3 separate regions of the Homo sapiens genome follow, and all the other regions are linked to region 2. Evidence: fine-mapped expression QTL. A gene starts in region 2. Each other region holds a variant in brackets. All regions are shown on one strand. Distances are from middle to middle. Region 1 has its middle 27 kb from the start of HDGFL3. Region 2 holds the start of HOMER2 (homer scaffold protein 2). Region 3 has its middle 11 kb from the start of RAMAC.

What was found. PIP is the estimated chance that this variant, and not a neighbour inherited with it, causes the effect. A credible set is the group of variants that fine-mapping cannot tell apart.
Region 1: its variant is the best candidate, but not a certain one, in a credible set for the expression of HOMER2 in skeletal muscle (GTEx, PIP 0.64).
Region 3: its variant is the best candidate, but not a certain one, in a credible set for the expression of HOMER2 in whole blood (INTERVAL, PIP 0.74).

The regions. Positions count from the first base shown.
Region 1 is chr15:83,233,385-83,236,147 of GRCh38, reverse strand. No RefSeq gene overlaps it. Among named protein-coding and RNA genes, the nearest start is that of HDGFL3, 27 kb to the right of the region's middle. The variant C/T (reference allele first, on the strand shown) is at 1,156.
Region 2 is chr15:82,951,124-82,953,886 of GRCh38, reverse strand. HOMER2 (homer scaffold protein 2) reads left to right here and starts at 1,167. Exons shown (of 9, transcript NM_004839.4): 1 at 1,167-1,356. The coding sequence starts at 1,352. RefSeq lists an enhancer at 1,417-1,917.
Region 3 is chr15:82,974,145-82,976,907 of GRCh38, reverse strand. It overlaps a transcript of HOMER2 not described here. Among named protein-coding and RNA genes, the nearest start is that of RAMAC, 11 kb to the left of the region's middle. The variant C/G (reference allele first, on the strand shown) is at 1,332.

The sequences.
Region 1 (2,763 bases), 280 kb before region 2:
ACAACCAAGAACAACAAAGAAGTTCTCATCCCCTTCCCCCAAAAAATAATAGGTAAACTCATAACAGTCCCCATATCCATCTCTGTGTGATGCTACTTTCTCTTCTAGTTTAGCTGGAATCCCATGAGAATCATTTGGAACCTAATTAGACTAAGAGTAACCCTTATCTAAAAAACAAGGGAGAAGTAGGGAGGAAAAATAATACATACAGATGTATATGTACATATCAAGCAAGGAAAAAATATACATAGCTGCTTCACCCCATTTCTGTACGTGGTACTGAAGCTGTAGTTGTTATATAGAGCTTCCTATCTCACTGTACATTTCAACCCCCTTTATCCTCAGCCAGTATCTCAACTGACCCAGATTCTTTGGAGTAGCCCAAACCTTCATTCCTGAAAGGTCTGATCCCCATTTGTCTTCATTTAGTTTTTCATTAGCTTTTTTTCTACTGGACATGGTACTAAGAGGTACCCTAGAGAATCTACTGAGCTTTATTATGTCTTAGCAACTAAATTCCCCTATGTAATTGGGATTACTCCAGCCAATACAATAACCTCCTTTGCCTGTTAGTTGAGAGACATACAAAGTCCAAAATGGCCAATGGTAGTCCCAACTCATAAATAAAAAATGTAAATCAATTATGTTCCCTCATGGAAGCATTCCTCCGTGGAGAACTAAGACTTCTAAGCCAGCAGAACCTTATCAAGGATAGGAAACAAAAATTCTGTGAGTGGGGCGTTAGGATATGCTCCCACTTCTGCACCTGCATCCCCAGACTTGAGTATTCTGGCTGTGGAAAAAATAGCACATATGTTGATTACTGGTTACACACACACACACACACAAACACACACACACACACACACACCCTGTAGAATATACCCCAAACCTAGAGTGTTGTCTTCCAATTTATACTGTAATTGTCTTTGGTAGGCTATTTCACTGTTCTCTCAGGCCACTGGTTTCTGGGTGTTTGGATATGTGGTACAACCAGTAAATGACATGGGCATGAGCCTCTGTGACTCTTCTATTTCTGTAAAATGAATTATTTAGTCAAAAGTGATGTATGAAATACTTTGGTGATGAATAAAGCATTCCATAAGTCTAGGGAGGATGGTGCTATCAGAAGCATTGCAGACAGAAAAGATAAGT[C/T]CATGTCCATATCAATTGATTATTCAATGGGAACAAATTATCACCCACTCCACATTGGGGATCAGCACTGGTCTGTGCTGCTGGGAGGTGAGACATGTAGCAATGGTTGCTGGATCATCTTTGGTGAGGGAAAGTCTATGCTGTTATGCCCATCCCTGCCATCATGGCCACTTTGAACATGAGCAATTGAGGAAACATTGGGTGGGAAAGGGGCTGGCTAACCTCCTCAGAGCATGTCTTCCTGTCTACATGATTATTCTATAGTAGGTGCCCTTGGTGAACATCCACATTGGACACAAATATCCTCACACTCTGTGCACTTTTAAATAGGTCCATCCCCATATCTCTTCCCTAGATCCCTTCTCACTGATTTGCCAATCTTATTTTTTCCAATGTCCCTGACCAACTGGCCAATTCTTTAACCCCTGCCCATGGGCCAATACAGATTCTCTCCTCTGAGTATTTCACATTGACCCAGTTGCCAGTGAAATGGACTGCTTGAAGTTCTGTTAGGTGAGACAATTTCTCTTCAACACTGTCTTTCAGGAATCCTTCTGAGGTTGTAATGCTACAGCAGTCTACTTCCTGTTCGTACAAGTATCATTAGGTTTCAGTTTTTCTTCCTAAGCCAATTGGTAATAAGGAATTCACCAGCAAATTATAGGACTACACAGAGGGAGAGGAACAGTGAAGCAGGGGTAGGTGTCATATGTAATTTCTTTGTGCCTTCAGGTTTGCTTAATTTTGATCCCTATTATACAATTTCTATTTAATTAATAATTGGTGCTGTGAATGCTCACCCTTATTGCTTAATGAATCAGATAACACCTAGTTCATAAGAGGAAACTAAGATTACGTGGTCTCTTGATGTTCCATGGTTAAACAATCTAGCTCTACAGGAACCCAGTCAGAGTTAGTTCTCAATTGGAGAATGAAGCATGACTTTGCTTTCAAATCCTAGAGACCTGCTCTGTTATTCTCCTTCAGGGCTTTTCAGGAGGCCTCACTGAACATCTCTTTGTGCCATAAACCTATAAAATACATCTGGCACAGAAGGTCCAAGTAGCAAAACAGCTTGTTACTACAGCTTGGACCTGATGCAGAGACTTTTCGTGTTTGGAGCCCCCTTCAAAACTATCAAGGTACTGAGTTGGAGCACACTCAAATATACCATACATTGACCTCCAGAAGCAAGTCAAGCATTAAAAAGGAAACCTCTTTTTTAATGGTAGAAAGTGCAATTAGAGTAACATGTCAATCCCTTTGGAAGAGATATTCCAACATGCTTTAGGCTCATGAACTTCCAAAAACCTCCCTAAGTCCCTGAATTTGTGTGGTTTTTATCTCCCACCTTTTGGCACACATGTGTCTTAATATGACATCTAGGATACTTGCTACTTCCTGGTCATCAGAACCAGTCATCATTGTATCATTGATGTAGTGGGCTATTTTTTTTTTTTTTTTGAGACGGAGACTCACTCTGTCACCCAGGCTGGAGTGAAGTGGCGTGATCTTGGCTCACCGCAACCTCCACCTCCTGGGTTCAAGCGATTCTCCTGCCTCAGCCTCCCGAGTAGCTGGGATTACAGGTGTATGCCACCACATCCA
Region 2 (2,763 bases):
TTTTGAGACGGAGTCTCGCTCTGTTGCCCAGGCTGGAGTGCAGTGGTGCGATCTCGGCTCACTACAAGATCCGCCTTCCAGGTTCACGCGATTCTTGTGCGTCAGCCTCCGGAGTAGCTGGGACTACAGGCGCCTGTCTCCACGCCCGGCTAATTTTTTTTGTGTGTGTGTATTTTTAGTAGAGACGGGGTTTCACCGTGTTAGCCAGGATGGCCTCGATCTCCAGACCTCGTGATTCGCCCGCCTCGGCCTCCCAAAGTGCTGGGATTACAGGCGTGAGCCACCGCGCCCGACCTGTCCCTTGACTTTTTTACTGTCCTGAGATGCCAGGCTTATGTGGGCGGTGTGTTCCCAGCAGAAGATGATCCCGTGGAAGTCCCGGGGGATGAAGGTTAGGTTAGTCCCAGTGCCAGCCTTTGGTAGAAACTCAGGACCTGATAGGTAGAAAGGCGACGAAGAGAGCCTGCTCTTCTTCAAGTTCTACTTTTGCCATCCTAATTCCCCTCGCTCTAAGGATAAAACCAAGCTTGATGAAGCCGCCTTAAAACTGCCCCTTCAAGTGGGAGCCCTCATCTCATTTTTATCCAGGAAAGAGCCCAGAGCATCTGCCGCGGCCTGTAGGCTCTTCTCTGCCAGGCTGGCTTCCGAAATTTCACGGTGGCGGGTACCTTAAGGCCACTCGGCCGGGCAACTGGCAGGAAGATGAAGGTGGGCTTTAAGGAGGAGCACAGCTATGCCCATCTCAGACTCTGGAGACCCGAACGAACTCTAATCTGAATGTGTGACCTTGGGCAAATCACTTACCCTCCCCAGGCCTCGGTTCCCTTATCTGCAAAGTAAAGGTAGCCCTAAAGTCCCCGCCAGGTGTGAATGGGACTTTAAGTCCATCAGGCAGGATGTTGATGGCACTGCGCCAGGGCCCCGGGTCGGCGTGGGGCGGGGGCGCGCCAACGCGGGGCCGGCACCGAGGACTGGGTGGCCCGGGAGAAAAGCGGCGACTGCGCGGCTGCGCGGGGGACGGTGCACACAGTGCTGCGCCCCCCGCCTCTTGGCTCGCTGCCGCGGCCCGGGGGCCACGAGGTTACGTAAGGAGCCGGGCGGGGGTAGCGGCTGGGGAGGGCGGGGCGGGCACCGCCCCAGCGCGGCCGCCCAGCCCCCGCCCGCCCGCGCCTGGCGGCGGTGGCGGCAGTGGCAGCAGTGGCAGCCGCGCAGCCCCGCGGAATGGAGCGGCGCCGGGGCTGAGCCGGGCGCGCACGGGCCGCCGCATGTGCCGCGCGGGGAGCGGCTGCCGAGCGGGCGGAGAGCGAGCGCGAGAGGCCCCGTCGGAGCGGCCGCCGGAGCAGCGCCGGAGATGGGGTGAGTGAGCCCGCGCCGCGCGCTCTCCGCGCGCCCCTCCGGAGGGACTGCGGGGCCGCGGCTGGCGTAACCGGGCTCGGAGCCTCCCGGCGGGCCGGCCCCCGCCTCCCCAAGCCGGAGCGAGCGCACACTCTGCGCCCGGGAGTCTGGGGCCACCTGACCCGCGCCCTCCGCCGGGGCACGCGGACACCCAGCAGGGGCACCCTGGCCTGGGCGCGGAGCCCGTGGCCCTTCCCCTCCCATACAGCCCGGGCACGGGGGCACCTGACGGGGACCGGTGCCCTGGCCGGCCTCCTGCCTCGGCCATTCCGCGGTCTCTTCGCCCCTGGGCGCAGTCAACTCCAGGGCCTGTGTGAGTCTAAGCAGTTTGTCGTTCTCCACGTTTGGATTTATTACAAGCAAAATGGAAATCGAAGTTTTCCTGGAAATAATCAAATAATAATAAACCTCCAGCGTAGGAATAGTGGACTTTGGATCTGCTTTGAGATGCTGAAGATGATGGAAGTCTATAAGGAACCTAGGTGAGGCTTCAGTCTTTGAAACAACTGAGTAGATGCTCAGGAGGGAAGTTGAAATACTCTGTCGAAGTGACTAATGCTTCTGAGTATATAAAGTAATTTAAGCTTTCCCCTCGGCGTCTCTCTGAGCAGTAGGCTCTGTGAGTCTGGGAGCCACTGTGCTAATAGCACAATAACTCCTTACATCTGCTCACTCTATTTGGGCACACGTTGACGGTTTGCCATACGTATTCAGGGGACACTTATGTCCACTTTACAGATGAGGAAACTGAGGCACAAAGTGGTTCGGTGACTTCCCCCAGGCTGTGTAGTTGATGAGCATTTGTGTAGCAGGGGTGGCCTTGCCACTGCCTGACGTGGGCATGGAGGCGGGTAAGTGAACCAGAATTCCTAAATCTCTCTGTTCCCTGCTGCTGAACCCAGCATTCTTCCAACAGCCCTTCGCAGGACTCAAATGCTTCTGCTCCAAGGGTCTAGAGATCTTGCTTTCCTGTTTGGGATGGGTGGGGCCTGGGAAGGCAAGAGTGCAGTGGAAGGAGCAAGATTGTCCTGGTGCCCTGGCTCAGCCCCCCTGGGTCAGTGGCTTTCTTGCACCGTACTCCAGGTTAAGTTTCTGGAGTCATTTTGCCTGGTGAGTCTTAGCCATGGGAGCTGCAGAGTGTGTGAGGGGATCAGAGGCAGGCCAAGAGGAATTTTGAGGAATGGAAGTGTGAGGGCTGTGGGCCAACATGAACTGGACATGACAGAGGTGGGTGACAGAGAGGAGGAGGCGAGATGAGCAGCGAGGGCTGAAGAAGTGTGCTTACATTTAGGAGATTTCACATGAACAGCAACTGTGGGTGATTTTACCCAGAGGCACCCAAGTTGGCAGGCCGTATTTCTGTAACAT
Region 3 (2,763 bases), 23 kb before region 2:
GGTCAGGAGCTTGAGACCAGCCTGGGCAACATGGTGAAACCCCGTCTCTACTAAAAGTACAAAATCAGCCAGGCATGGTGGCGCATGCCTGTAATCCCAGCTACTTGGGAGGCTGAGGCAGAATTGCTTGAACCCTGGAGGCAGAGGTTGCAGTAAGCCAAGATCACGCCATTGTACTCCAGCCTGGGCAACAAGAGCAAAACTCTGTCTCAAAAAAAAAAAAAAAAAACCACACACAAATCTTAAGATCTAATCGTACTAATTGTAGAGTCAACCAGAAGATAGTTATGATGGTAATATATGCAGTATATAAAATAGTGTGGCCTCATGCCTGTAATCCTAGCACTTTGGGAAGCCGAGGCGGGTGGATCACCTGAGGTCAGGAGTTCGAGACCAGCCTGGCCAACAATGGCAAAACCCTGTGTCTACCAAAAATACAAAAATTAGCTGGGTGTGGTGGTGGGTGACTGTAATCCCAACTACTTGGGAGGCTAAGGCAGGAGCATCGCTTGAACCCGGGGTGCGGAGGTTGCAATGAGCTGAGATTGCACCACTGCACTCCAGCCTGGGCGACAGAGCGGACTCCGTCTCAAAAATAAATAAATAAATAAATAAATAAATAGTGCATGATAATCTAATGGGATGCAGGGAGAGATAATTGCAACTAGATATATAAGTATAGAGGTACTTCAGGGTAAAGGAAGAATAAGAGGAAAGTGAAATTAACCCTGAGAAATTTACTGAAGAAGGTGATTCTGCAACAAGCATATACACGGAGTGCGTGCACACACACACTATGTGGATTGCCAGAAGTGAGCTCCTGTGAGGAATATGGATTCTTGGGTGCAGAGGATGCAGACTGACCATTCTTTTTAAATTTATTTTATTTAAAATTTTTTTAATTTTAATTTATATGGGTTCATGGTGTATATATTTATGGGACACAGGAGATGCTTTGATACCGGCACACAATGCGAAATAAGAACATCATGGAGAATGGGGTATCTATCCCCTCAAGCATTTATCCTTTGTGTTACAAACAATCCAATTACACTCTTAGTTATTTTCAAATGTATGATTAAGTTATTATTTACTGTAGTCACTCTGTTGTGCTATCAAATAGTAGGTCTTACTCATTCTATTTTTGTTGTACTATTTAACTATCCCCACCTTCCTACCATGCCACTACCCTTCTTAGCCTCTGGTAATCATCCTTCTACTCTTTATCTCCATGAGTTCAATTGTTGTGATTTTTAGATCCTACAAGTAAGTGAGAACATGCAATGTTTGTCTTTCTGTGCCTGGCTTATTTCACTTAATGTAATGACCTC[C/G]TGTTCCATCTATGGTGTTGCAAATGACAGGACCTCATTCTTTTTTTACGGCTGAATAGTACTCCATTGTGTATATGTACCACACTTTGTTTATCCAATTGTCTGTTGATAGACACTTAGATTGCTTCCAAATTTTAGCTATTGTGAACCGTGCTGCAGCAAACATGAGAGTGTAGATATCTCTGATATGCTGATTTCCTTTCTTTTGGGTATATACCTAGCAGTGGGATTGCTGGATCATATGGTAGCTCTGTTTTTAGTTTTTTGAGGAACCTCCAAAATGTTCTCTATAGTGGTTGTACTAATTTACCTTCCCACCAACAATGTATGAGGCTTCCCTTTTCTCCACATCCTCACCAGCATTTATTGCCTGTCTTTTGGATATAAACCATTTTAACTGGGGTGAGATGATACCTCATTGTAGTTCTGATCTGCATTTCTCTGGTGATCAGTGATGTTGAGCACCTTTTCATATGCCTGTTTGCCATTTGTGTGTCTTTTTTTTCTTTTTGAGACAGTCTCTCTGTTGCCCAGGCTGGAGTGCAGTGGTGCAATCTTGGCTCACTGCAATCTCTGCCACCTGGGTTCACGTGATTCTCCTGCCTCAGCCTCCCGAGTAGCTGGGATTACAGGCGCCCACCACCACGCCCAGCTAATTTTTGTATGTTTAGTAGAGACAGGGTTTCACCATGTTGGCCAGGCTGGTGTCGAACTCCTGACCTCAGGCGATCCACCTGCCTCGGCCTCCCGAAGTGCTGGGATTACTGGTATGAGCCACCACGCCTGGCCTGTATGTCTTCTTTTAAGAAATGTCGGCTAGGCACAGTGGCTCACAGTGGGTCCTAATTCTCTTGTAGAATACTCTTCAGAGACAGACTCCAAGACTGCTGCATTTCCCTGTGGGGTGACTCACAGAGCTCTTTACTAGTCTTCTCTCCCAAGTGCCCCCAGGGAGCCCCTGTGCAATATCATCCCAGTCATATTTGGAATATGAACTGTGACCCTTACCTAGGGAAATATGTCTCTCTCCTCAGATTAGAGCATATTCATTCTAATTAGACATTGTCGTGTATTGACTCTGTTTTCACCATGGTAGGTAGAAGTCTGCCCCTCCCATAGGTGAGTGGAGAACCTTTGCTCTATGGAGACCTTTAGTATTTTTTTTTTTTTTTGAGATAGAGTTTTGCTCTTGTTGCCCAGGCGGGAGTGCAATGGCGCGATCTCGGCTCACTGCAACCTCCACCTCCCGGGTTCAAGCTGTTCTCCTGCCTCAGCCTCCCGAGTGGCTGGGACTACAGACACGTGCCACCACGGCTGGCTAATTTTGTATTTTTAGTAGAGATGGGTTTTCTCCATGTTGGTCATGCTGGTCTCGAACTCCTGACCTCAGGTGATCCACCCGCCTCTGCCTCCCAAAGTGCTGGGATTACAG